6 separate regions of the Homo sapiens genome follow, and all the other regions are reported to be linked to region 1. The links are microRNA targets in miRTarBase. Many come from high-throughput screens and were not tested one by one. Region 1 holds a microRNA gene; each other region holds the end of a gene's coding sequence.

Region 1 (4,107 bases):
GAAAACCATGGGGACCCACACCCGGGCTTCGGGGACACATACCCGGGCTTCGGGCTCCCGCATCCTCCCCTGGGTATGCAGTTCCAGAACTAAGCGCCGTGTGCGGGATCCTCCCGGCTGACACTCTTCGGCTCCCAGAAGCTGCAGGAGCCGGCGGGCTTTGAGCGTCCGAGCCCTGGGCGCCCCGTGCCTCTCAGGAGGGTGGACGCCGCCCTTCCAGGGATGCGGACCCCGCCTCGGGGCCTTTTCCCCGGCGCCGGCCGTCGGGGCTCTTGGCTCTTCTCGTCCTCCCAGGAACCGTAGGACTCTCCTTGCCCTCCCTCCCGTAGGCCGAGGGGCGCGAGCTGCGCCTGTTTCCTCACGGACCCTTTGGCCTCAGCGCCTCGACGTCTTGCAATTGTTAGCTCACGGCTCTTCCTCCTATAACAAGGCCCTTCCATGTCATGTCCCCTACTCCCTCTTAGCACCAGAGAGATGCCGCCCCTGCCCCACAGGTCACATTCCATGAGTGGTGAAGTTTCTAGAGTTGTAACCATGGCATCTCCAGCCCTGTGTGTTCCTCTCCATGCTCCCCATTGAGCAGTCTTGATCCTGTATTAGCCCCAGGAAATGAAATAGAAACAGGACCCTACGTTAAAAAGTTGCAGTGGAGATGTGGTGGCCACCAGGGGCTGGAACTGTGGGGTGACTGAGAGTATCCAAAGCCCTGTGGCCAACCTACTGGTGCTGAGTGTGCTGGTGAGCCTCTCTGTCAGCTGGCTTCCCCGGGCCAGTTGCTCCCGGAAGCTCTGTCCCAGGTAGTAGTCAATGTCATTGCTCCTTAAGAGATCCTCAAAAGATTTTACTGTATCTTTTGCATGCTGGGTGAGAAGATAACAAACACCTCTCCCTTCTCGTATTTTTTGCCGTAGGTAAGACAGTTCCCGGGGCTGATCCTGAATCAGGGAATCATATTTCCTAATGCAGGACAGAAGAGGAAAGGGTGGATGATAAGTTATGGGGCTTCTGTAGAGATTTCTATGAGAACATCTCTAAGGAACTCCCCCAAACTGAATTCTGGCACGTAAGCCATAGGAGGTATTTAAGAGTAAATTCTACCCTGATAAATTATTGCACTAAAAATTTAGTATGGGCCGGGCGTGGTGACTGACGCCTGTAATCCCAGCACTTTGGGAGGCTGAGGCAGGCAGATCACAAGGTCAGAAGTTCGAGACCAGCCTGGCCAATATGGTGAAACCCCCTCCTCTACTAAAAACACACAAAAAAACTAGCTGGGCATGGTGGCACATGCCTGTAATCCCAGCTACTTGGGAGGCTGAGGGAGGAGAATTGCTTGAACCTGGGAGGGAGAGGTTGCAGTGAGCCGAGATGGCACCACTGCACTCCAGCCTGGGTGACAGAGTGAGACTCTGTATCAAAACAAAACAAAACAAAAAATTTACCATGCCACTGTTCTTCAACTGTTCTATATATGTTAATTATATGTCCCTAGATAAATCGTAAGGTCTGTGAGAATGAAGATAGTTCTGCGTTTCACATCCCTTACAGCACCAGCATCACAGAGATTCACAGCAGATACTCAATGAATAATTAGACTCATCTCATCCTAAGTCTAGATAGGACCTTTCATGTCTTCTGTTTTAACCACCACCTGATGTCTGAATTTCTTCTGTGTTGTGATACTGTGGCTGACTGTATTTTGCAATCATGGCCATCACATAAACTCTCATGCCATCAACTGATGAGACCCAAAACAAGAGACCCTAAGTGAGAGCCACCCAGCTGAGCCCAGTCAAACCACAGAACCATGAAGCATAATAAAGTACTGTTTGAAGTCACTAAGTTTTAGAGTGGTTCTTACTTAGCAGTAGATAACCAGGACGCATACCAAGATGAATGTCTGTGTTTTCAACACAAAGTGTCAATAACACTGATAACTATGGCAAATAGCATTGAGAGCTTAATGTATGCTGGGCACCATTCTAAGCACTTGTACTAATTTTTTTTTTTTTTTGAGACAGAGTCTTGCTCTGTCACCCAGGCTGGGGTGCAGTGGTACCATCTCGGCTCACTGCATCCTCCACTTCCCAGGTTCAAGCGATTCTCCTGCCTCAGCCTCCTGAGTAGCTGGGATTACAGGGGTGCACCACCATGCCCACCTAATTTTTATATTTTTAGTAGAGACAGGGTTTCACCATGTTGGGTAGCCTGGTCTCGAACTCCTGACCTCGGGTGTTCTGCCCACCTCAGCCTCCCAAAATGTTGGGATTACAGGCATGAGCCACCACACCTGGCCAGCACTTGTATTAATTCATTTAAACCTAATATCCACCCTTTGAGATGGGTTCTGTTATCATCCTCATTTAATAGGTAATGACAAAGGCTCAGAAAGGTTAAGAAGGTTGCATGGGTAGTAAGCATCAGAGCTAGGCAGTCTGATTCCAGTATTACCACTATACTATGCTATACTATACTATACTATACTATACTATACTATACTATACTATACCATATGTACTATTACTTTACTGATATATCCCTAAGAGGAAATCCCTGAGATCTGGTATCTCCCAGATACTGGGACATCATCCTATGCCCTCCTGCTTGCCTACCTGTCTTTTCCACAGACCTATATCTACCATTTAAATCAGTGTCCTTGTGAATACCCAGACATGTTGTTTCTTCCAACTGCCTGAGCTACCCTACACCAAGCACAAACTTACACATTTTCAATCCAGAAAGTGCCCAGACAGTGCCATCCTTACCCAGGCCATGAGGCTGATCTCAGCTCCTCAGCCAGCTTCCCTTCTAGTCAATTTTTTGGGAGCTGGGCCTCCAGCTGGGATACTCTCTGGATGAGACTCTTCAGGTCCTTTTTGGCCTGAAGTCCTGGAGAGTAGAAAGCCCCAGTGCCATCAGACAGCCACACCTCATCCTCATCAGTGACACTATGAGGTGAAGACCCCTCCAGGGTGTCAGGAGCTCTCAGCTTCCAGGGTCTTTCCAGACTAGATGAATAATCACTTGTAACTGAGAGGGACTGGACCTGGCTCTTGAAGTTTTGAATGACCTTGTTGGCATTCTGCAGCTGGGCCTTCAGATCTTTGATGTCCTTTCATAGGACCCAGATGTTTTCTGACTTTCCATATACCCAGAACTCTTCCTGCTTCCCTAGTTCATTCTCCAAGGGCTTCCTCTCAGAGGAACTAGCCAGCGTTCAGCCCCGGCGCCCCTGCTCAGAGCACAGCCCCTCCACCAGGACCATTTCCTTGCGGCTGCTGTGCTCCTCATGCTCTGAAAAAAGACAAAGATGTCTTCCTGAATAAAAGTTGGATGTGCTGTTGTGGCCACTGCCTTTGAGAGGAGGCAGGTTTGGTCATGAGGATAATAATTACTAGGGAAAAAGGTGAAGTCGTACTTTATTCAACCCTGACACTGTACTAGGCATTCAAATACAGTATTTCTTATCCTCCTTATACCCACAAGTTAGGTTTCACCACTCTCTATTTTACTGACTGGGGAAACCAAAACTTAAAGAGAGGTGGTAAACCAGCTTGTTCTAGATCACTCAAACTAGCACGTGGCAGAGCCTGAATTCAAATCCTCCAACATCCTGTGTTCATTCCACACACACTGATGTTTCTCAAGACATTATTAACATGGCCTTATCTAGTTAGGATAGCCACAAGAATGTAGGACAAGCTATTTCTGCATGCTGCAAGTTTAATGCTCTCTAAAGTTTACTATAATTTAAAAGTTTATTGGGTTATAACTGTGTGAAAAATAGGCAAAGGAAAATAAGAGTTTGAATAAATATATCAGCATGTTAACATCAGTGTATTGGGGCAGTGGTAGTCAGAATGAGAACTAATCCACAGCATTTTACCCGATGCCAGACACTGTTCTAAAGCATTTTATAAGAATTTACTCATTTAATTGACATTAGTACCTGATGGGGTAGGTAGTTCCTTTATTACTATTTTAACATTTGAAGAAACTGGAGCATAGGAAAGTTTACAAATTGGGATTTGAAGCAACAAGTCTGACCCCAGGATCTTTTCTCTTAACTGCCACAGTACACTTCCTCAAGAATGAGAGAGACTGTGT
Region 2 (4,088 bases), not on the chromosome of region 1:
GAAACACAAGTGTATTACTGGTGTACACAACTCCAACATATAGAAAGGTGTCCCCTCCCCATGCCAACCCCTGCCACAAATGGCTGCCAGACTCCCTAGGCGGACACAGCCACCAGCTCACACTGGGATCGGCAATGCGTGCTGCTGCTGGACAACTTTCCAGGAAGCCACTCCAGTGACAGCGGTATTTCAAAATGCTTTTTGCTGTTGCAGTCTCAGCTAGGATCTTGGCCCTCAAGGAATGGATTTGACAATGTGCAACCCTAGACTTGTGGAATAAAATAGACCAGAGGAGGAGGAGAATAGGGTCTTGGAGCATCAGAGATACTATTCTTCTGACATGGGCTTCTAGAAAAACTTAAGATTGTAGCAAAGAATCAGAAATTCTATTGTCAGCAGAGAAGCTCCCTCATTGAAAAAAAAAAATGGGCTGACGATTGCACTTGCTAGATATTAGTAATCAAAGCTAGTGCGTCTATAATATGCTTCCTGTTCTAAGAACCCTGCATACATGGGCTTCTGTAGTCCTCACTCCCATCTTACAGATGAAGAAACTTTGCAGGGTTGACTTGCCCAAGGTCACACATCAGCAGTGAAGCCACTTCAGTGGGGGCAGCAACAACTATTGGTATATGTCCTGGTTTATGCAATGTCTCTCAAATGCCACATCTGATTCCTATGCTTGCCCCGAGAGACACGTGTTTACAAATAGGGAAATGGTAGCTCAAAACGGGGAGGGGCCTTGCTCAAAGCTTCATGGTTAATGAGGAAACCAGGTTTTCAGATTCCAGATCTTGTGCTTTTTTTTTTTTTGGTAAACTCAGGGGTCTGTGAGTTCTTTAGGAGCAGGATTTTCTGTTTTCAATGTGATAATCTTGAAAACAAAAAAGCCAAAACCCCATTGGCAATGAAAATTTGCAATCTGAAAGACGTTTTAGGGGAACAGGCGTTGGTTTTTGAGTTGTCTTTGCAGTACTTTAGGGCCTGCAGAGATGGAAAATGGATAAGCGGTTTGCTTGTTCCCAAATGGGAGGAACAATGAGTTTTACCAGGCCCTTTCATTCGGTGATAATGTATTTTAAAAATCTCATTTTCTCTTCAAATTTATTTCAGTCTGTTTTTGATATGACTTGAATTAAAAAAAGAAAAAAAAAAAAAAACTTCAGGTGATGTAGCCAGAAGTTGAGCTAAAAGCAGAGCTTTCTAGATTGGAGGTGGTTGCTAAGGAGTCCTTCCATTCAGATGGGATCAGCCTGCAGCTGTGATGGTTTCACACTGAGGCCAGCAGAATTGTGCCCAACTGAGCTTTCTTATGAGGTGGCCCCACAGGCCTCGGAGCAGACAGACCAGCCGGACAGTGGAGGTGCCAAGCACCATCCGTGCCGGAACGAGCCCTGGCAGTCACAAGAGAAGCGGAAGCTTCTGGTGGCAGAGGGAGGCGGGAGCTCTGCCACCCGGGGGAAGCTCCCCAACTGCTGCCGTTTTGCACAGGCCACAAGATACGGCAAGGAAGGCCAGGGATGAGCTAGAAAGAGGGATTCTCGTGAATCCTGAGATAAAACCAGGATTCAATAATAGCTGACAGCCATCAGAAAGGTGCAAGTTCCTGTCATTTTGTTTCAAATTCCCTAAATTGTCATCTTTTGAAGTGAACTTTCCACGTGCAGGCCTTTTTACCATTTCACAAAAGCCCTTTTATGTGTGTGGATCCATTTGGGCACCTAGGACAGATGAGAAGGTCGAGGCCCAGAGACTTTGTGCTCCAGGGCTGCGCAGCTGGTTCTGTCTCCAGCAACACAGCTCTGACAACCAGCGGGAGTAGGCTTTATTGTTTTATTTTTATAGGGTAAAAAAGCATAATTGAGAAGTAGCTAAGTCCCTAAACGACACTCATGGAAAGCTGTGGTGGTTCCACAGCCAGCCCATAACAAAGCCACTGCCATTTGCCTCATAGCAGTTTAATGAAATGGCAAACAGCACCCGGGAGGAAATGAACAGTGCCATAGGTTGGAAACTGAAACCTGCACATTTGTGGCAAATGTCACTGCATTTACAGGGAGAGAAAGAAAACCACATGACTCTTCTTTGTATGTTAAAGACTTTTTATTTTCAGGCCCTTTCAGAGGAATCAATTCCTTTAAACCTTTGTAAAATGCCACAGGAGCCAAGGTTAAGCGATGCTTTTAACTTAGGAACTGACCCTCTCCAGGCAGAGTCTCCAAAGTAGATTACCTCGAAATTTCAAAGAGGCAGTTCTACAAGAGGAGCCTTTGAAGAAGCCAATCCTGTTTTCCATTGTTTTGCTTTCACACACGGGTTGAACTTGAACTCTTACCTTTCTCCATTTATAACAACCAAAATCCACCTTAAAAAATCAAAGGCTGGGAGCGGTGGCTCATGCCTGTAATCCCGGCATTTAGGGAGGCCAAGGTGGGTTGATCACCTGAGGTCAGGAGTTCGAGACCAGCCTGACCAATATGGTGAAACCCCCATCTCTACTAAAAATACAAAAATTAGCAGCGGCGGGTGCCTGTAATCCCAGCTACTCAGGAGGCTGAGGCGGGAGAATCGCTTGAACCCGGGAGGCGGAGGATGCAGTGAGATTGCGCCACTGCACTCCAGCCTGGGTGACACAGCGAGACTTTCTCAGAAAAAAAAAAAAAATTGCAAGTAATGGCTTCTGTGGAAGCAAATCTTGATTTAGGGGCACACAACCTGAGACTCCACCCGCTCAGGATAGACAGACAGGAAAGCCAAACGCTCTCTGGGGACCACACTTGGGGCTGCCCACACTGCTCTGTAGTTGCCAAGAGGGTGGGAAGTAGAGATAACAAAGAATGTGGAATGAAGCTCTTTGTCATCGCCGTCTCGGATGGTAGACTCCCGCCTGGGAGAGGCTGCTGGCTGGCTGCTGCCAGGCTCACACCCCCACAACTGCAATTCCTCTTTCCCAGTCACACTGCTATTTATTTCTAAACATCAGCACTGTAATCAGAATGATTTCCATGAAAACAAAAGCTCATTTTCCTAACTTGCGCTCCAATGCGTATGTCGTTAAAGGGCTGAGATTAGAGTCTGGTGGTTTTCCTGTTTCAACCTGACTTTCTGTCCCCAGGGTATATAAATAAACTACTCTTAAGTTTGCTCCTCGAATGACAATCAGTTTTATTGCATGAGTTATGGTGTCCAAATGAGTTAATTTGCTTTTTTCACCGTCTGAGTCAAAATAGGCCACCTGCAGGCCTCATGCAAAATGTAGAAACTGGATAGATGATTTAAGCCTCAAAAACGCAAGTGATTTTTTGGGGTGCACGCAGGAGAGGGCGGATCTGGGGTGTGGTCAGCAGATGACCAGCCGTGGCCTTGAAGGCAGTTTCCAGTCTCTGCAGCTGCGGGATGAGGGTGAAGCCCCCCATTTGCTCTGCTCAGCCTCTCTGTTGAGTATTTAAGAAATCCTGATTCTCCGTGTTCTGCCAGGGAGGATACTGCAGAAGAGTGGACTGGTGTGGCCATTATTTCAGCATCTTCACCATGTACGGGCCTTGTAATCTGTAGCCGATCTTTCTATAATAATTCCTGGTGCCGACCCCTGCAGAAAAATCGAAGTTAAAAAAGGAGCATTCACTTTAGCAATTCTCAAAAGTCGGCATGTGCTTCCCTCAGCCTTACACTCTCTCCCACCCAGAGACCAAATTCTCTCCCACATAAAATCTCAGCTTAATAAGTTTGGAACATTATTACTTTGAATTCAGGCTGCATTAAAATATAGAAACTGCTAAGTGGAGAGAAGAAGACTCTTTCCCTGATTTTTAACTCAAGCTCAGGGTATGTGACACACACACTCACAGGCAACAGCAAACGTGTGCACCCGTGTGTTGGAGCCTGCGTATTCACTACCCTACTGGCAACACCAGGCACCACCTTAGGTGCTACAGGTGAAGGAGAAGAGGTGGATTTACTGTCTGAGCTGCCTATGCTCCAGATGAGGCCAAACGATAGACGGTTTCCCAGAAGTTTTAAAGAGAGAAGAGTGGGGGAAAAAATGGGATCTCCACTCAGCCCCAGTAGCGAAGGTACACTTGTGGCTA
Region 3 (4,107 bases), not on the chromosome of region 1:
CAGAGTGCAAACCTCACAGTACATGAGCGAATCCACACGGGAGAGAAACCCTATAAGTGTAAGGAGTGTGGAAAAGCTTTCAGTCATAGCTCTAACCTTGTTGTTCATCGGAGAATCCACACTGGACTGAAGCCCTATACATGCAGTGAATGTGGGAAATCTTTCAGTGGAAAGTCACATCTTATTCGGCACCAGGGAATCCACAGTGGGGAGAAAACTTATGAATGTAAAGAGTGTGGGAAAGCCTTTAGTCGGAGTTCGGGCCTTATATCACATCACAGAGTTCACACCGGAGAGAAGCCCTATTCTTGTATTGAGTGTGGGAAAGCCTTTAGCCGTAGTTCAAACCTTACTCAACATCAGCGAATGCACAGAGGAAAAAAAGTTTACAAATGTAAGGAGTGTGGGAAAACATGTGGTTCTAATACAAAGATTATGGACCATCAGAGAATTCACACTGGAGAGAAGCCTTATGAATGTGATGAGTGTGGAAAAACTTTCATCTTAAGGAAAACTCTTAATGAACACCAGAGACTTCATCGTAGAGAGAAACCTTACAAATGTAATGAGTGTGGGAAGGCTTTTACTTCTAATCGAAACCTTGTTGATCATCAGAGAGTTCACACTGGAGAGAAACCCTATAAATGTAATGAATGTGGGAAAACCTTCAGGCAGACTTCTCAAGTTATTCTACACTTGAGAACCCACACTAAGGAGAAACCCTATAAATGTAGTGAGTGTGGGAAAGCCTATCGGTATAGTTCACAGCTTATTCAACACCAGAGGAAACATAATGAGGAGAAAGAAACCTCATAAATAACAAATATTGTGGGTAGTAGGGCTGACTGCTGCTTTTCTAAAAAGTAGTTCTTTAGTATCAACTTTAATTCTACTTCTAAGAATCATACTCTACTTCTAAGAAAATAATTAGAAGTAGACAAAGATTAATGAAAGGGATGTTCATGACAGCATCATATACGACTGAAAGAAGAAAACTAGATTTTCAACATTACAGGGTTGAAATGAATGATGAGCTATCCATATGATGGTTCTGCAGCCATTGCAAACATTTTTAAAGACAATTTAATGCCATGGGGAAATGATTGGATAAGACGGAAGATAATGACATACAATCCAAAATTTAAAAAAATATTTTTGCATAGGAAAAATTGAGAAGGAAGTAAACCAAAATGTTAACAGTGATCATCTCTGGGCGATAGGATTATAGGTGATTTCTATTTTCTTCTGTATACTTTTCTATGCTTTCTAGATTATCTACATGAGAATATACTAATTTTATATGCAAGAAAAAAAGCACAGTATTTTTTAAATGCAATGAAGACGTGCTTATTTTCACTCAGCAGTGTTATGAAAGGCACGTAGTATATAGAGCCCAAAGCCCTGGGATTGCACCCTGACACTGGCATTTAGCAGCAGTGGAACCGCGAGCAAGTCCCTTCCTTTTAGAGCGTGTTTCCTGTTAAGTAAAATCATAAACACCGATCCTTTGTCCTTTTTAGTTTTAAGACAAGCTGACTTTAGAGTTGTCAACAAAATATATAATAACACTGTTAGGTTAAAAGAACACAGCAAAAATTCACTGAACCCTCCTTTCCCACAGTTCTGGAAGGATCTGCAGATGATGGAGAACTACCTAGGCTTCATCTTTTCAACATATGTCTACACAACCAGAAAAAAATGAAATTGAAACAACTGTAGACTCAAAAACTTCAGATACAGTCACCAGTTAATATAAAACTAGTGGGAGACTCTGCCTTCACATGGTATATAGAGTTTAAAGGCTAAAAGTACAAACTTTGGGGTTGGAGATATCCATGTTCTAACCCCAGTTCTACCATGAACTAGCTTGTCAGTTTTGGACAAGTCACTTAACTGCTCTGAGCCTCAGACCTGTGTGTAAAAAAGGAACAATTACCTACCTTACAAGGTTGTTGTGAGGATTAAGTGAGTAATGCATGAAATATATGATAAGCCAGACACGTGGTAAATGATAAAATCTTAAGTATAGGACATTGTAGCAGTGTTTCTAAACACTTTAGGGAGAGTGATTAAAGAGAATTTTTGTGTAAGGTAGTACTTAGGATATTTTCAGATGTATTGAACAGAATACCAAGTACTAGCAGCCTAGACCTTAAGAACATTGATTGATTGCTTAAGGGGAATCTAGAGGTAAGCAGTGCTATGTTTGGTTTGGCAACTCAGCACTTCATCACACTTCTCTCTTAACTCCATAATTTTCAGCATGTTGACTTTCATTTTTCATAACCTCATGGTGGCAAGACAGTGGCCACAGCTGCATCTTGCCTTCACACAACTCCTTCAGATTGGGAACTGGAAAAGGAGCTGAGGCTTTCTCATCTGGTTTCTTCCTTTTGTCACTGAGAAAAATCTTTCCCTGAAGAAGGGACGGAGAGGTGTTGAGCAATCAATACAACAGATGTTTTCTATCTTCCTCTGCCTTTCTTTATGACCAGTCCTCCTTGAAGGTCTTAGCCCATCTTCCACCAATATTTAAAACATTTTAAGTGCTTAGCTCAAAGTCACTCTGAAACACTTAGAATCTCCCTATTTTTAACTCAGCCATTCCTCTGTGTATACAGTGAATCCCTAAGCCCACTGTTATCTGTCTTATGCACATAGTGAATTAGTGTTTGGGGAATTTTTGATAATATGTTATTTAGTTCTCCCTCTATTATACAAGAAAATTGAGTGTCATTGAGGTTAGGTGACTGGCTAGTAAGTTGTCGGAGCCAGGATTTGAGCTCAGATCTGACTTTGAAATTCATGCTTTCTTCATTATACCAAAGTGCCTCTGCCCACCATGGTGGTTCTGTATGTGAGTGGAAGACCAGTTGGCGTTTTCCCAGGTAGCTGCCTCTATGAAAGGTGATTGTATCTAACAATTATTTGATATTTGACCATGGTTTTATAGGGAAGATGTTATCAGTGTTCTGTGAATGGGGTTTATGGCCTATCTCTGTACCTCATAATTTAGTTTTAAGGTATATATATTTCTTTCTTGCTGTTACCGGAAAGAAAGAAGTGAAGGGTGAAGGTTGTATATTTGTGTGAAAAAAAATTACTGATTTTGTCCTATTTTGATAGGATAGTGGTTTGCACATAATTTGTGATATAATAGTCCTTTGCATGGTCATTCCAAGCAGGGTTTGGAAGGCCTGGAACAGATTTGTAGCATTCATGGACAAGCCTGGTCTATCATTCCTGAGCAGAATTGTTGATGCTTTATATATTGCTGAGCAGATATTCTCTGACCAAAACATTTTTTCACCACCATGTCATAGTGCCTAAAACTCTTTATTTAGATAGGCTTTCTTTTTTGTCTTAGAAGACTATGATCTTCAAGAGTATATCTCAAGGAAGGATATGATGCCATCTCATAACCAGAGAACTGAATATAGGAGAGCTTCATATTTCTTGCCCCAGGCAGGCGAGGATTATAGTCTCTTGAGGAGGCCATCACCCATCTTCTAGGCTAATACCTGCCTTGAGCTGTAGGAATAAACACTTGACAGTGGGTTCCTGCATCCTTTCAGATAAACATTCAGCTATAATTTGAACTGATCACCCACCTTTCTCCGGGAGTCTCCCAGGGTTACCAACTTTTACCTCAGTCAGAGTTTAGGCATGCAGCTCTTACCATCCTTTCAAGCCCTTTCATAATACCCTCTGGAAACCAGGAACTGTCTCTTTTAATGTGCTTTCTTTTTCTTTCTTTTCTTTTCTTTTCTTTTTTTTTTTTTTTTGAGATGGAATCTCGCACTGTCGCCCATGCTGGAGTGCAGTGGCGTGATCTCAGCTCTCAGCTCACCGCAACCTCCAGCTCCCAGGTTCAAGCAATTCTCCTGCCTCAGCCTCCTGAGTAGCTGAGATTACAGGCACCTGCCACCACACCCAGCTAATTTTTGTATTTTTAATAGAGATAGGGTTTCACCATGTTGGCCAGGCTGATCTCGAACTCCTGACCTCACAAGATCCACCTGCCTCGGCCTCCCAAAGTGCTGGGATTATAGGCATGAGCCACTGCACCTGGCTTTATTTATATGTGTATTTATTTATTTATTTATT
Region 4 (4,107 bases), not on the chromosome of region 1:
ACTTTAAAGGAATCTTTCTACTATTTTATCATTAAGTATGACATTTGTGTTTTCAGAACATATATTCCCTACCAAGTTACAGGAGTTAATTTTAATTCCCAACTTAATAGTATTTTAGTGTCATCTATGGGTGTTAAATTCCATCAAGTGATTTATCAGCATATACTGAGATAATCCTTATGAGTTTTATCTGGTAGTTAATTAAAATATTTTCTAATATTAAATCTTCCAAACATACTCTTCTGTTTTTTGAGACAGGGTCTAGTTCTGTCACCCAGGGTGGAGTACAGTGGTACGATCTCAGCTCACTGCAACTTCCGCCTCCTAGATTCAAGTGATTCTCCCGTCCCAGCCTCCCAAGTAGCTGGGATTATAGGTGTCAGTTACCATGCCCTGCTATTTTTTTGTATTTTTAGTAGAGAGGGGTTTCACCATGTTGGCCAGGCTGGTCTCAAACTCCTGACCTCAGGTGATCCACCATCTCAGCCTCCTGAAGTGCTGGGATTATAGGTGTGAGCCACCGTGCCTGGCCCCATATATCTCTTTTTAAGTGGGCATACTGCCATTATAAATAATAGTGATTCTGCTGGTAATGAACAAAGGATGCTGGATCCACTAATAGTCTGTTAAACCTAATATCATGACTTTCTTGTTAGCTATACATTGGTTTGCTATAATTCCATTTAGAATTTTTAAACCTATGTTCACAAATATGGATTTTTAAACCTATGTTCACAAATATGGATTTTTAAACCTATGTTCACAAATATGGTTTGCAAGTCATTTTTTCTCCTAAATTTCTATTTGATGGGGAAGTTGTAAAATATTGGGGTTATTTTTCCTTGGATTTTCCTTATAATAACTATTCCTGAAAAGTCTCTGGAATGTCTTTCTTTTCTGGGGCTGGGGTAGAAGGACTAGATAGATTTACAAACCAGTAACTCAATTTCTGTTTTGTAAAATTTTCATTTCATTAAATAATAAGTCCTAATCAAGTATTATTCTTTCCCACAGTATGTGAGTGCTGTCCTCAATACTGTCAACACTTCTGGCTTCTACCAGGCAAGGCTGCATGTAGATTTGCATCTGAAAAAACAACAAACTAAAATCTAACCCTAGGTAGTAGTAAACTGAATATAAACTTTCTCTTATGAATTTATTCTGTCTTCTTTGGTACATCAATAATAATATACACCTTTACAGTATTTCCCAGATTGGGGGATACACTTTAGCAAGTATCTGCGATTATTTGTTTATGTAAGATGTCCCTTCCCTTCTGTGAATCATCATTCTTCACCCCAAGTATCTTGAGATTGGATTCTGTATAAGCAGAATACAACAGTTAGGCATTCAGGTATCATTAAATTCCTCCGCTTCAAGGATGAAAATTTCTTTGGGTATCTAATAGAGTACAAAGCAGAAGGTGTTTCAGAAATATTTGCAGTATTGAATCCGCATATTCCTCCAAGATAGCCCTAATCTAACTGGCAGGGTCCCACTCTTCCCAGATTAATGCCCACTCACATAACAAACCTGATGAGGTAGTGAAGAAAACTAACTTTGTGAGTAAGCAACTGGCAGAGTTTTTCACCACTGTGACTCTATAGCTACATGTAACTAAGTAGTATCACTGACACATAATCTTAAATTGAAGTTTTAAGATCATTATTCTCCATGTTATACATGGGTATCAAAAGCATTCCCCTCTTGACCACTCCAGAATTCTGTTTAAAATTTTTCAATGACAACTTATCCATTTCCCCAAAGCCTCAGTGAGCACATGATGCCAACAATTCATTTCATGACTTCATAGCATGGGCCAAGTTTCTTGCTTAAAAGACTTCCATCCTGTCTTGGGAAACAACCATTTCCAAATATCCACATATCCTTGCAAGTTTCTGCCTACTCCTCTACCACCCATTTCTGAAGCCATCTGATTTAGTAAGCTGTATGCAAAAGATACACAATGGCTAATGCAATCAAACAAGGAATGTATTAAAAGCACACCCAATAGCTCAAAATAAAAGACAAGTGAACAAAGTTAAGAAAATGACAGTAACAAAAGCTGTTCTGGGAACCTCTATTGAAATAGCTACTTATTACATCAACATGCTACCACAGAACAAAAGCTCATGTTGCTTTTCTGAACTTGAAAAACCCATTAACAATGTACAGTTCTGAGCCTCAGCTGACCATAGTGCTCATGCCAAGTCCTGAGCAGGGCATCTTGAATGGTGGTTCCCTCATGACTACATACACCGTTAGGGAATGTTTCGTTAAGAGGAAATCAAGATGTTCTAACCTGTGAAGGTAGAATAGATTCCAGGCTACACAAACACATGAAGTGTGCCTTATATTGATTACTAAAGAGGTTGCTGCCAAGACTGCTTCCAAAGGGCAGAAGATAGCCCTAAAAAATGTTTGCAGTGTGGAAATGCATTTTTAGTAAGTCATATTCTAGTAACAAGTTGCATTTGGTAAGACACAAAGAAACAATGTTGGTATGCAGAGTAGAAATCTCTGGAAGATGATATTGTCATATCAGAGATATTGTCAGTATCAGAGATACTGAAATCTCTGGAAGATGATTTTTGTCTCACATATGGCATTCGCAAGTAAAATGCCAAACTGCAAAATTCATATTATGTAGTACACATAGGAAGATATCTAAATATCCCTGTAGGCTCTGGGATGTTATTTCTTATTCTTAACCTCCTTACTAGATTCACTTGTACAATGAAATAATCTGTATCTTATTATTTATAATTGAGAATTTTCTCAAACCTTTTCCTGAAATTTTGGAACACCTGGAATAAAATTTCTTAAAATGATTCCTAAAAGAAATAATTCTTCAAAATTAATATTAAGATATAATAACAGGTTGGTTTTTTTTTTTTTTTTTTTTTTTTTTTTTAGAATGAAGCTTCTAAGGTGAGGTTAACAGTCCAGCTGTGGTTTATTTGGTACATTCATAAGATGTTCACTCCTATATATATTTTTTCCCTAGGGGTTTCTCATTTCTAGATTTACACTTTCCCTTATAGCATGGTCCCTCCAAGGTATATGCTTCCGATACATAAAATGTTTGTAATTTTGTTAATTCTGCCATTCATTAGCTCAATAATTTCTCTCATTAAAATTCTGTAAACTATGAATTTCAAAGAAGTCTATTCTATATTCATCTGGTTCATGAAGTTTCCTCTTTGTGAATCTTATTTTAGTAAAATGACTTTACAACGTTTAACATGGTTCCTCACCTGTATGAACTTTTTAAAAAAAGGTATGACTTGCTGCTAAAAATTTTCAGAGTGGTTACTAAATTCAGTTTTCCTGTGTATTGTCTACTATCTTTTTGCATGTAAAGAACAGCTTTCTGTGGATGCCTTTCCATATGCTGTGCATTCATAAAGTTTCTATTCAGTATGAGTTTTCTGGAAGATGACAAGATGATTCCACTTACAGAGTTTCTCTTTATATATGATTGTTTCTATCTCTTGTGAATCCACTTTTCAGAGTTTCGTAAAATTATCAATGTTTGTCATCTACATGAGTTCTCTGATGCATAATGAGCTGTGACTTCCAACAAAAGGCTTTCCCACATTCAGTGCACTTACAAGGCTTCTCTCCTGTATGTGTTCTCTGATGTGCACTGAGAATTGATTTTTGAGAGAAGGTTTTCCCACATTCATTGCACCCATAGGGTTTCTCTCCTGAATGAGTTCTTTGATGTACAATGAGTTGAGAATTCCTAATGAAGGCTTTTCCACACTCACTGCATTCATATGGTTTCTCTCTTGTGTGCATTCTCTGGTGTACAAGAAGGCGTAATTTCCCACTGAAGGATTTCTCACATTGACTGCATTTATAAGGGTTGACCCCTGCATGAGTTCGCTCATGTACAATGAGTAGTGATTTCCAAATGAAGGCTTTCCCACATTCATTACATTCATATGGTTTTTCACCTGAATGAGTTCTCATGTGTATAATTAGGTATGACTTGCTGCTAAAAGCTTTCCCACATTCACTGCACCCATAAGGCTTTTCCCCTGCATGAGTTCGCTGATGTGAAATGAGCTGGTCTTTCCTATTAAAGGCTTTCCCACATTC
Region 5 (4,107 bases), not on the chromosome of region 1:
CTGGAATTTGAGTTTGGAGGGATTGACTTAGAGCAAATGCGAACCAAGTTGTCTTCCTTGGCTACTGCAAAGAGCATTCTACACCAGCTCACAGCCTCCCTCGCAGTGGCAGAGGCATCACTGCGCTTTGAGCACCGAGACTTACACTGGGGGAACGTGCTCTTAAAGAAAACCAGCCTCAAAAAACTCCACTACACCCTCAATGGGAAGAGCAGCACTATCCCCAGCTGTGGGTTGCAAGTGAGCATCATTGACTACACCCTGTCGCGCTTGGAACGGGATGGGATTGTGGTTTTCTGTGACGTTTCCATGGATGAGGACCTGTTTACCGGTGACGGTGACTACCAGTTTGACATCTACAGGCTCATGAAGAAGGAGAATAACAACCGCTGGGGTGAATATCACCCTTATAGTAATGTGCTCTGGTTACATTACCTGACAGACAAGATGCTGAAACAAATGACCTTCAAGACTAAATGTAACACTCCTGCCATGAAGCAAATTAAGAGAAAAATCCAGGAGTTCCACAGGACAATGCTGAACTTCAGCTCTGCCACTGACTTGCTCTGCCAGCACAGTCTGTTTAAGTAAGCTAAATGTATCTTACTGCCCCGAAATGAGAGGAGACTGGTCTTGAAGCCTCTGGTGCTGTTTCAACCTCCATCCCCACAGGAGGGTGGAACTCCCATTCTCACAGGTTTCCAGTCAGCTTTTCAAACAAGAATTTTGTTTCCAAATGGAAACTGAAATATTTGTTGAAATGTTTAAATTTGCTGATAACAAATGTTCTGAAAGAAGTAAACTAGCCGGGCACAGTGGCGTGCGCCTGTAGTCCCAGCTACTCGGGAGGCTGAGGCAGGAGGATCGCTTGAGCCCAAGAGTTCATATCTAGCCTGGTCAACATAGCAAGACCCCTGTCTCTATTTTTTTAAATAAATAAACTACATGTGAAAACAAACGTTTATATTTATAAACCCTCTTTTTTTTTTTTTTAATTTTATTGAGACAGAGTCTTGCTCTGTCACCCAGGCTAGAGTGCAGTGGTGCGATCTCAGCTCACTGCAACCTCCGCCTCCCGGGTTCAAGCAATTCTCCTACCTCAGCCTCCCGAGTAGCTGGGATTGCAGGCATACACCACCATGCCCGGCTAATTGTTTGTATTTTTTTAGTAGAGATGGGGGTTTCACCATGTTGGCCAGGCTGGTCTCGAACTCCTCACCTTGTGATCCACCCACCTCGGCATCCCAAAGTGCTGGGTGATTACAGGAGTGAGCCATGGCACCTGACCTATAAGCCCTCTTTCTAATTGTCAGCAGAGTCCTTTCTGTAAATTCCTTTCCGTTTTTTGAGCCTTAACACTTATGTAGTCTGAGCAAAAAAAAAATGCCCAGGCTTCAGCTTCATACTGAGCAGAGCCTGTTGCTTCAGGTATCAAGGCTAGCTTTGGGAACCAGACTACAGATGAGACAACTGAAAGCAAAGAGGCTGAGGCAAAGCAGAGACCAAAAAAGAGTCTCAGGGGAGAAGAAGGGAAGCTAGTAAGCAACTTATAGGGGGCAGTGTAAGAAATGTCACATGTTACATCGCTCACACAGAGAAGCAGAATTTATCAATTTTCAAAGGGAAAATGTCTCTGTCTACTGACAAGGTTTTAATTTTTGCTTTTTTTTTTTTTTGAGATGGAGTCTCACTCTGTCTCCCAGGCTGGAGTGCAGTGGCAGGATCTCGGCTCACTGCAAGCTCCGCCTCCCGGGCTCACACCATTCTCCTGCCTCAGCCTCCCAAGTAGCTGGGACTACAGGCGCCCGCCACCACGCCCGGAGAATTTTTTGTATTTTTAGTAGAGACGGGGTTTCACCGTGTTAGCCAGGATGGTCTCGATCTGCTGACCTTGTGATCCACCCGCCTCGGCCTCCCAAAGTGCTGGGATTACAGGTGTGAGCCACCGCACCTGGCCAATTTTTGCTTATTTTTCCTCAAAGGGAGGAAAACTGACAGGTTGCTTTAAGAGCTGAGTGATTGAGAGTCCTTCTGAACAGGACTTCGGGAATTTACTCCTAATCTTTTCCCATGGTTAACTTGTCTTCACTCTGTTTCTAGAACTCTGGTTTTTATACTTGAGACTCTGTAGTCACTGTGGAAAGAGGTGTGACTGATAAAGAACTGCCTTTAAATACCTGAGTCCTCGTCAGCTTCTTCACTGCTACAACCTGGAGACCTCGTAATTTGGTTGGGACGCAAATTTGCAACTGGTATTCTGCTCCAAAGAGGTTCTCCCCATGTACCTGCAAATTAAAATCAGAGTAGGAAATCAAAGCTGGTATTGCTTTGCCATCTACAGCTTTACAATAATAAGTACTTACATGGAAGAGGAATTCTTTGTGGTGAGAAAGCCCCTGGCCTGTGTTCACGTACATTATGGATGGTCTGCAATTGACAGGACATGCGTCAGCCCTTGAGGAGTCTTTCTCCCTTTTTTGGAGACAGGGTCTCACTCTGTTGCCCAGGCTAGAGCACAGTGGAACAATCATGGCTCAGTGTAGCCTCAACCTCCCAGGCTCAAGTGATCCTCCACCTCAGCCTGGGAAAGTGTTGGGATGACAGGCATGAGCCACTACACTCATCCCTTTTTTTTTTTTTTTTTTTTTTTGAGGTGGAGTCTTGCTCTGTTGCCCAGGCTGGAGTGCAGTGGTGCGATCTCAGCTCACTGCAACCTCTGCCTCCTGGGTTTAAGTGATTCTCCTGCCTAAGCCCCCAAGTAGCTGAGATTACAGGCGCCTGCCACCACACCTGGCTAATTTTCATATTTTCAGTAGAGACGGGGTTTCGCCATGTTAGCCAGGCTGGTCTTGAACTCCTGACCTCAGGTGATCCACCCACCTCAGCCTCCCAAAGTGCTGGGATGACAGGCGTGAGCCACCGCACCTGGCCTTCTCTTTTTGAATGAACTCGACTGCTTTCAACTGAATACATTAGGACAGAGGGCACCAGACCTTTACCAGGAATGAGGCCGGGTGCAGTGGTTCATGCCTATCATCCCAGCACTTTGGGAGGCCGAGGCAGGCGGATCACCTGAGGCCAGGAGTTCAAGACCAGCCTGGCCAACATGGTGAAATCCCCGTCTCTATTAAAAATTTTTTAAAAATTAGCTGGGCCTGGTGGTGTCCACCTGTAGTCTCAACTACTCGGGAGGCTGAGGCAGGAGAATCGCTTGAACCTGGGCGGCAGAGGTTGCAGTGAGCCGAGATGGCACCACTGCACTCCAGCCTGGGCGACAGAGTGAGACTTCGTCTCAGTTTAAAAAAAAAAAAAAAAGGAATAAAAGCTGAATGTCAAAATATAAAGTGGTCGTAGCGCAGTTGGGGTGAGGTGGAATATTTGAATTCTGTATCGTTGGGCTGGTTCATTTTCTAATTATCCCTCAAATGGCCTTACTCATCCCCTCCTTACTTCCCAGTCCCACAGCTGCCTTCTTCCCTCCACAGCGTCATATTAATTCCCTTTTGTAGCACGACTAGTTGGCAATACACCTCCTTTGATGACCACAGTGGGGTTTCTGTGACCCAAATGTTAGCACCCTAGAGATCAATATCAGAGCCTGGGTTCTAAGCAGGCTCCTCTCAGAAGGACAGTGTCCACATTCATCCTGACCACCAGCTCCATCTACGAGAGAGAGCCCAAAGCTGCCCCCTGGGCGATGGAGTCACACCGCTGCTGGCCTCTTGGGAGTACTCACTTGGACAGAACTGCAACGAAGCCATGCCTGAATTGAAGGGTGTGGGTCTCGTTGGCCAAAGACCGTCTTTCATTGGAACTAGGAATAAGAGTGTTAGTTCATAGCACACCTGCTTTGTACATAGCAAGTGCTTCTTAAAAAGGGCTTCGCTCTGTTGCCCAGGCAGGAGTGCAGTGTTGCCGTCTCAGCTCACTGCAACCTCCGCCCCCCGGGTTCAAGCAATTCTCATGCCTCAGCCTCCTGAGTAGCTGGAATTACAGGCGTGAGCCACCATACCCAGTTAATTTTTGTATTTTTAGTAGAGATGGGGTTTCACCATGTTGGCCAGGCTGGTCTCGAACTCCTGACCTCAAGTGATCTGCCTGCCTTGG
Region 6 (4,000 bases), not on the chromosome of region 1:
CCAAAACCCTGGAGCTCTTAGGTTTGAGACTTTTAGTTAATTCACGTAATTGTAACAATCAGAGAGCTAAGGAGGCCCCAAGCTCACCATATCCTTGCTATCAAAAATGTCTGACCCACAGTATATGTGATTCCATTGCTAGCCATAGCTAAAGTGCCTTGTTTTGTATTTGCACTAAGCTGGCCAGATTCTAAGTAATTTAGAATTAATGTAATGTAAAACTATCATACAGCATATATTAATCAACTTTTTTGAGCAGGGTCTCTTTCTGTCTCCCAAGCTGGAGTGCAGTGGTGTGATTTTGGCTCACTGCAGCCTCAACCTCCCCAGGCTCAGGTGATCCTCCCACCTCAGCCTCCCAAGTGGCTGAGACTACAGGCACGTGTCACCACGCCTGGTGAATTTTTTGTATTTTTAGTAGAGAAGGGGTTTCACCATGTCCAGGCAGGTCTCGACCTCCTGGACTCAAGTGATCCACCTGCCTCGGTCTCCCAAAGTGCTGGGATTACAGGGGTGAACCATCTCACCTGGCACACGCAGCATATTTTAAACTGTGGAGGTTGATGCCATCAGAATTTGGACTATGTTTGGTTTATTTAGGATAAACTCATTATTGGACCAGGCTTTATTTGTCAATAAAACTGATTTATCAAGAAAACTCAACAAAGTCAGATGTGATTATTTAGTTTTTATCTTAAGCATCACATGAAGGAGTGAGGATAAGACTTCTAGCATTTTTCTGTGAAAAGCCAGCAAAATTCGGGGTCATCTTAAATCCTTTCTGAAATTGACCCAGGTTTAATTGTTTTTAAGTCTGAAAAGATGTACTTTAAACAAGTAAAAGAAACAATAAAATATAATTTTTAATTTTTAAATGAAAAAGTAGCCAAATTTGTTCAAAACACAAAAAAGTAAACATTTTAAAAGAAAAAAAGGCCCAGAAAAGAAAAACACACAAAAAAGGAATTTTTCAAAAGACTGAAGCCATAAAACACAATTGATGTTTGTTATCTTTAGACAAAGGAAAGGGGGAAGAGCAGAATGTGATTTTACTTTGCAATGTGTACTTTCTATAGTGTTTGGATTGCTGAAAGTATTTCCATTCATTACTCCTACTTTTTAATATATTGGGCCTAGTATGGTGGCTCATTCCTGTAGTTCCAGTGCTTTAGGAGGCCTAGGTAAGACGATAGCTTGAGGCCAGGAGTTCAAGAGCAGCCTTGGCAATGTATTGAGAACCTGTATCTACAAAAAAAAAATTTTTTTTAATTAACTGGGTGGCTGGGCATGGTGGTTCATGCCTGTAATCCCAGCACCTTGGGAGGCCGAGGTGGGTGGATCACCTGAGGTCAGGAGTTTGAGACCAGCCTGGCCAACATGGTAAAACCCCATCTCTACTAAAAATACAAAATTAGCCAGGCTTGGTGGCACGTGCCGGTAATCCCAGCTACTCAGGAGGCCAAGGTAGGAGAATCGACTGAACCTGTGAGGCAGAGGTTGCAGTGAGCCGAGATTGTGCCATTGCACTCCAGCCTGGGTGACAAGAGCGAAACTCCGTCTCAAAAAACATTGCTGGGCATGGTGGCTCACGCCTGTTGTCCTACCTACTGCGAAGGCTGAGGTGGGAGGATTCCTTGAGCCCAGGAGTTCAAGGCTGCAGTGAGCTATTATTGAGCCACTGCACTCCAGCCAGGGACGGAGCAAGACCCTGTGTCTAAAATTTTAAAAAATAAAACAGAATACTGAAATAAAATAATAGGTTATAATTTTAAAAGAATTATTTTTAAAAACCATGAAAAATGAAAAAACCTTAAAGCAGAAACTATTTAATTCTAAAAATGTCTTAAGCAAAAAAGGGTGATTATCAAACATTCTTTCAAAATATTTATTTCAAGTAGAAATTGATATAATGTACTATATACAGGAAGACACCACATGTAAGATAAGTAAGTCAAAAAGTTTCAGGAATACACGTTTATCAAAATATTAAAAACTCAAAATAATTTTACATCAGATACTTTAATTAAAAATAGTGTTCATGGGTTAAGGGTAGGGTTAAAAAAATAAAAAATTAAAAAAGTAGTGTTCATCTATTAAAATACCAGGCCCCAAACAGTCACCAACTAAGAAGAGAGACGGTTCTACTCCCTATAAATTCATACACACAGGCCTCCTTATACAGTCATCACATACATTTTTATCTAATTGTCTCCTAAAAATCCCTATCTTTCTGTTACTCTTTTCTTTCTTTTTTTTTTTTTTTTTTTTTGAGACGGAGTTTCGCTCTTGTTGCCCAGGCTGGAATGCAATGGTGCGATCTCGACTCACGGCAACCTCCGCCTCCCGGGTTCTAGCCATTCTCCTGCCTCAGCCTCCCGAGTAGCTGGGATTACAGGCATGAGCCATCACGCCTGGCTAATTTTGTATTTTTAGTAGAGACAGAGTTTCTCCACGTTGGTCAGGCTGGTCCTTTTTGTTACTCTTATGGGAATTATTCGGCGGGTTAAAAAAATTTTTTTTTAATAAATACATTTTTTTTTGGCCGGGCTCAGTGGCTCACGCCTGTAATCCCAGCACTTTGGGAGGCCAAGGCGGGTGGATCACCTGAGGTCAGGAGTTCAAAGCCAGCCTGACCAACATGGTGAAACCGAGTCTCTACTAAAAATACAAAAAATTAGCCAGGCGTGGTAGCTCATGCCTGTAATCCCAGCTACTTGGGAGGCTGAGACAGGAGAATCACTTGAACCCAAGAAGTGGAGGTTGCAGTGAGCCGAGATTGTGTCACTGCACTCCAGCCTGGGAGACAAGAGCAAAACTCCGTCACAAAACCAAACCAAACCTTTTTTTCTTTTTTTTCCAAAATGCTACTAAGCAACTACATCTACCCTTGGATGATAGATTAAAATTGGAGTTTAATATCTGAATTATTTTTACAAAAGCAGAAATAGCTAAATAATGAGTCTCAGGTTAAGTAGGAGGTGGAGTGGGCGACTATCTAGGAAGAATTCATCACCTGATCAGTGAGTGACAATGCAGAAGGAGCTTTGAAAACTGGCTCTATGAGATAACAACTCTGTTGACATAGACCTTCTCTTTCTCCTAGAATCCTTTCTCAAAGGCATGCATGAGTGCACCAAAAACGAATTGCCAGGGGAAAGAAAAGTAAAAGCTGACTTTCTGTCATGAGTAGTGTGCAGGCCAGGGGCTGCCCGAGAAGCCTCTAGCCTCTGCACACTCAGCAGGGATGCGTAGTGTCCTGGCTCGGGTGTCCCCAAGAGAACGTGAGGGGCAGGTCCCAGAGCAGGGCCCAGGAGACAGAGACTGATTCATTTGGATGAGGAGCACTTGCCACCCCTTGAGGAGACACCTTGAGGGAGCGGACCCTCCCCCCAGTGGTCACCCCCTCCTGAGGATCGCTGCCCTTGGTTGATGCCCTGGTCTCTGCCCTTTCCCCCTGGGCCATTTTCCTGCCGACCTCCCACCTCCTGGGGCAGAAGATGGAGGGGTGGGGGTCCTTCCTCTGGCTCTTCAGCTTCGGAAGCAGACTCAGTAGACTCATCGTCGTAGAAGTCAATCGTGGCTTGCACTGGGAAACTGGCCAGTACTTGCTCCCCGGAACTCCGCAGGTATTCTTGACGCTTTGACATGGGTAAATAGACTCTAATATTTAAGAAACAAATATACCATTAATCAACCTGAACCTCGTCCTAAATTGCTTCTAGAGGGTGCTTTTTCCCAGAAGCAGAGAACTCCCCAGTCTTCCTTTCTGGTCTTTGCCTTCACAACACACAGAATTTAAGTCATCAGAACAGAGAACTCTAGGCACCTATTGGAGGCACCTGGTGATAAACCTACCCCGGTTCAGAAGTGAGTTATAAATCTGACTGAGCCAGTCAATTCAGACAGTCGCAAGGAAGAGGGTGTGCTTCAAGGAAGGTAAAAGGCAACTGAAAACACTGAGTTCCAAGATTAGGAGGCTCACTCTGATCAAATAGCGGAC

Evidence for each region. Region 1 holds the annotated microRNA hsa-miR-3675-3p (CAUCUCUAAGGAACUCCCCCAA, at 1,027-1,048, shown strand). A microRNA usually pairs through its seed, bases 2 to 8, with sites in the 3' UTR of a target mRNA and lowers its output. Matches are read on the target gene's strand: a 7mer-m8 pairs with bases 2 to 8, a 7mer-A1 pairs with bases 2 to 7 and ends in A, and an 8mer does both.
Region 2: the mRNA of ELP3 is a reported target of hsa-miR-3675-3p. Seed matches in the 3' UTR shown: 7mer-m8 at 2,492-2,498.
Region 3: miRTarBase lists ZNF660 as a target of hsa-miR-3675-3p. Seed matches in the 3' UTR shown: 8mer at 3,957-3,964.
Region 4: miRTarBase lists ZNF268 as a target of hsa-miR-3675-3p. Seed matches in the 3' UTR shown: 7mer-A1 at 3,489-3,495 and 7mer-A1 at 538-544.
Region 5: the mRNA of HASPIN is a reported target of hsa-miR-3675-3p. The part of its 3' UTR that is shown has no 7-base or 8-base seed match.
Region 6: the mRNA of RIPPLY3 is a reported target of hsa-miR-3675-3p. The part of its 3' UTR that is shown has no 7-base or 8-base seed match.

What each region holds. Positions count from the first base shown.
Region 1 is chr1:16,855,899-16,860,005 of GRCh38, reverse strand. It overlaps MIR3675 (microRNA 3675), which reads left to right and starts at 985; the gene lies at 985-1,057. It also overlaps the pseudogene PDE4DIPP9.
Region 2 is chr8:28,189,150-28,193,237 of GRCh38, reverse strand. ELP3 (elongator acetyltransferase complex subunit 3) reads right to left here. Exons shown (of 15, transcript NM_018091.6): 15 at 2,085-3,589. The coding sequence ends at 3,513. Among named protein-coding and RNA genes, the nearest start is that of ELP3, 98 kb to the right of the region's middle. RefSeq lists an enhancer at 882-1,634.
Region 3 is chr3:44,594,374-44,598,480 of GRCh38, forward strand. ZNF660 (zinc finger protein 660) reads left to right here. Exons shown (of 3, transcript NM_173658.4): 3 at 1-4,107. The coding sequence ends at 816. The region is part of intron 2 of ZNF660-ZNF197 (ZNF660-ZNF197 readthrough); the gene reads left to right. The region is part of intron 2 of ZKSCAN7-AS1 (ZKSCAN7 ZNF cluster antisense RNA 1); the gene reads right to left. Among named protein-coding and RNA genes, the nearest start is that of ZNF660-ZNF197, 11 kb to the left of the region's middle.
Region 4 is chr12:133,203,952-133,208,058 of GRCh38, reverse strand. It overlaps ZNF268 (zinc finger protein 268), which reads right to left. Exons shown (of 6, transcript NM_003415.3): 6 at 1-4,107. The coding sequence ends at 3,529. Among named protein-coding and RNA genes, the nearest start is that of ZNF268, 25 kb to the right of the region's middle.
Region 5 is chr17:3,725,742-3,729,848 of GRCh38, forward strand. It overlaps HASPIN (histone H3 associated protein kinase), which reads left to right. Exons shown (of 1, transcript NM_031965.2): 1 at 1-958. The coding sequence ends at 591. It overlaps ITGAE (integrin subunit alpha E), which reads right to left. Exons shown (of 31, transcript NM_002208.5): 24 at 3,737-3,814; 25 at 2,364-2,427; 26 at 2,178-2,285. Among named protein-coding and RNA genes, the nearest start is that of HASPIN, 3.9 kb to the left of the region's middle.
Region 6 is chr21:37,017,534-37,021,533 of GRCh38, reverse strand. It overlaps RIPPLY3 (ripply transcriptional repressor 3), which reads right to left. Exons shown (of 4, transcript NM_018962.3): 4 at 1,872-3,660. The coding sequence ends at 3,327. Among named protein-coding and RNA genes, the nearest start is that of RIPPLY3, 13 kb to the right of the region's middle.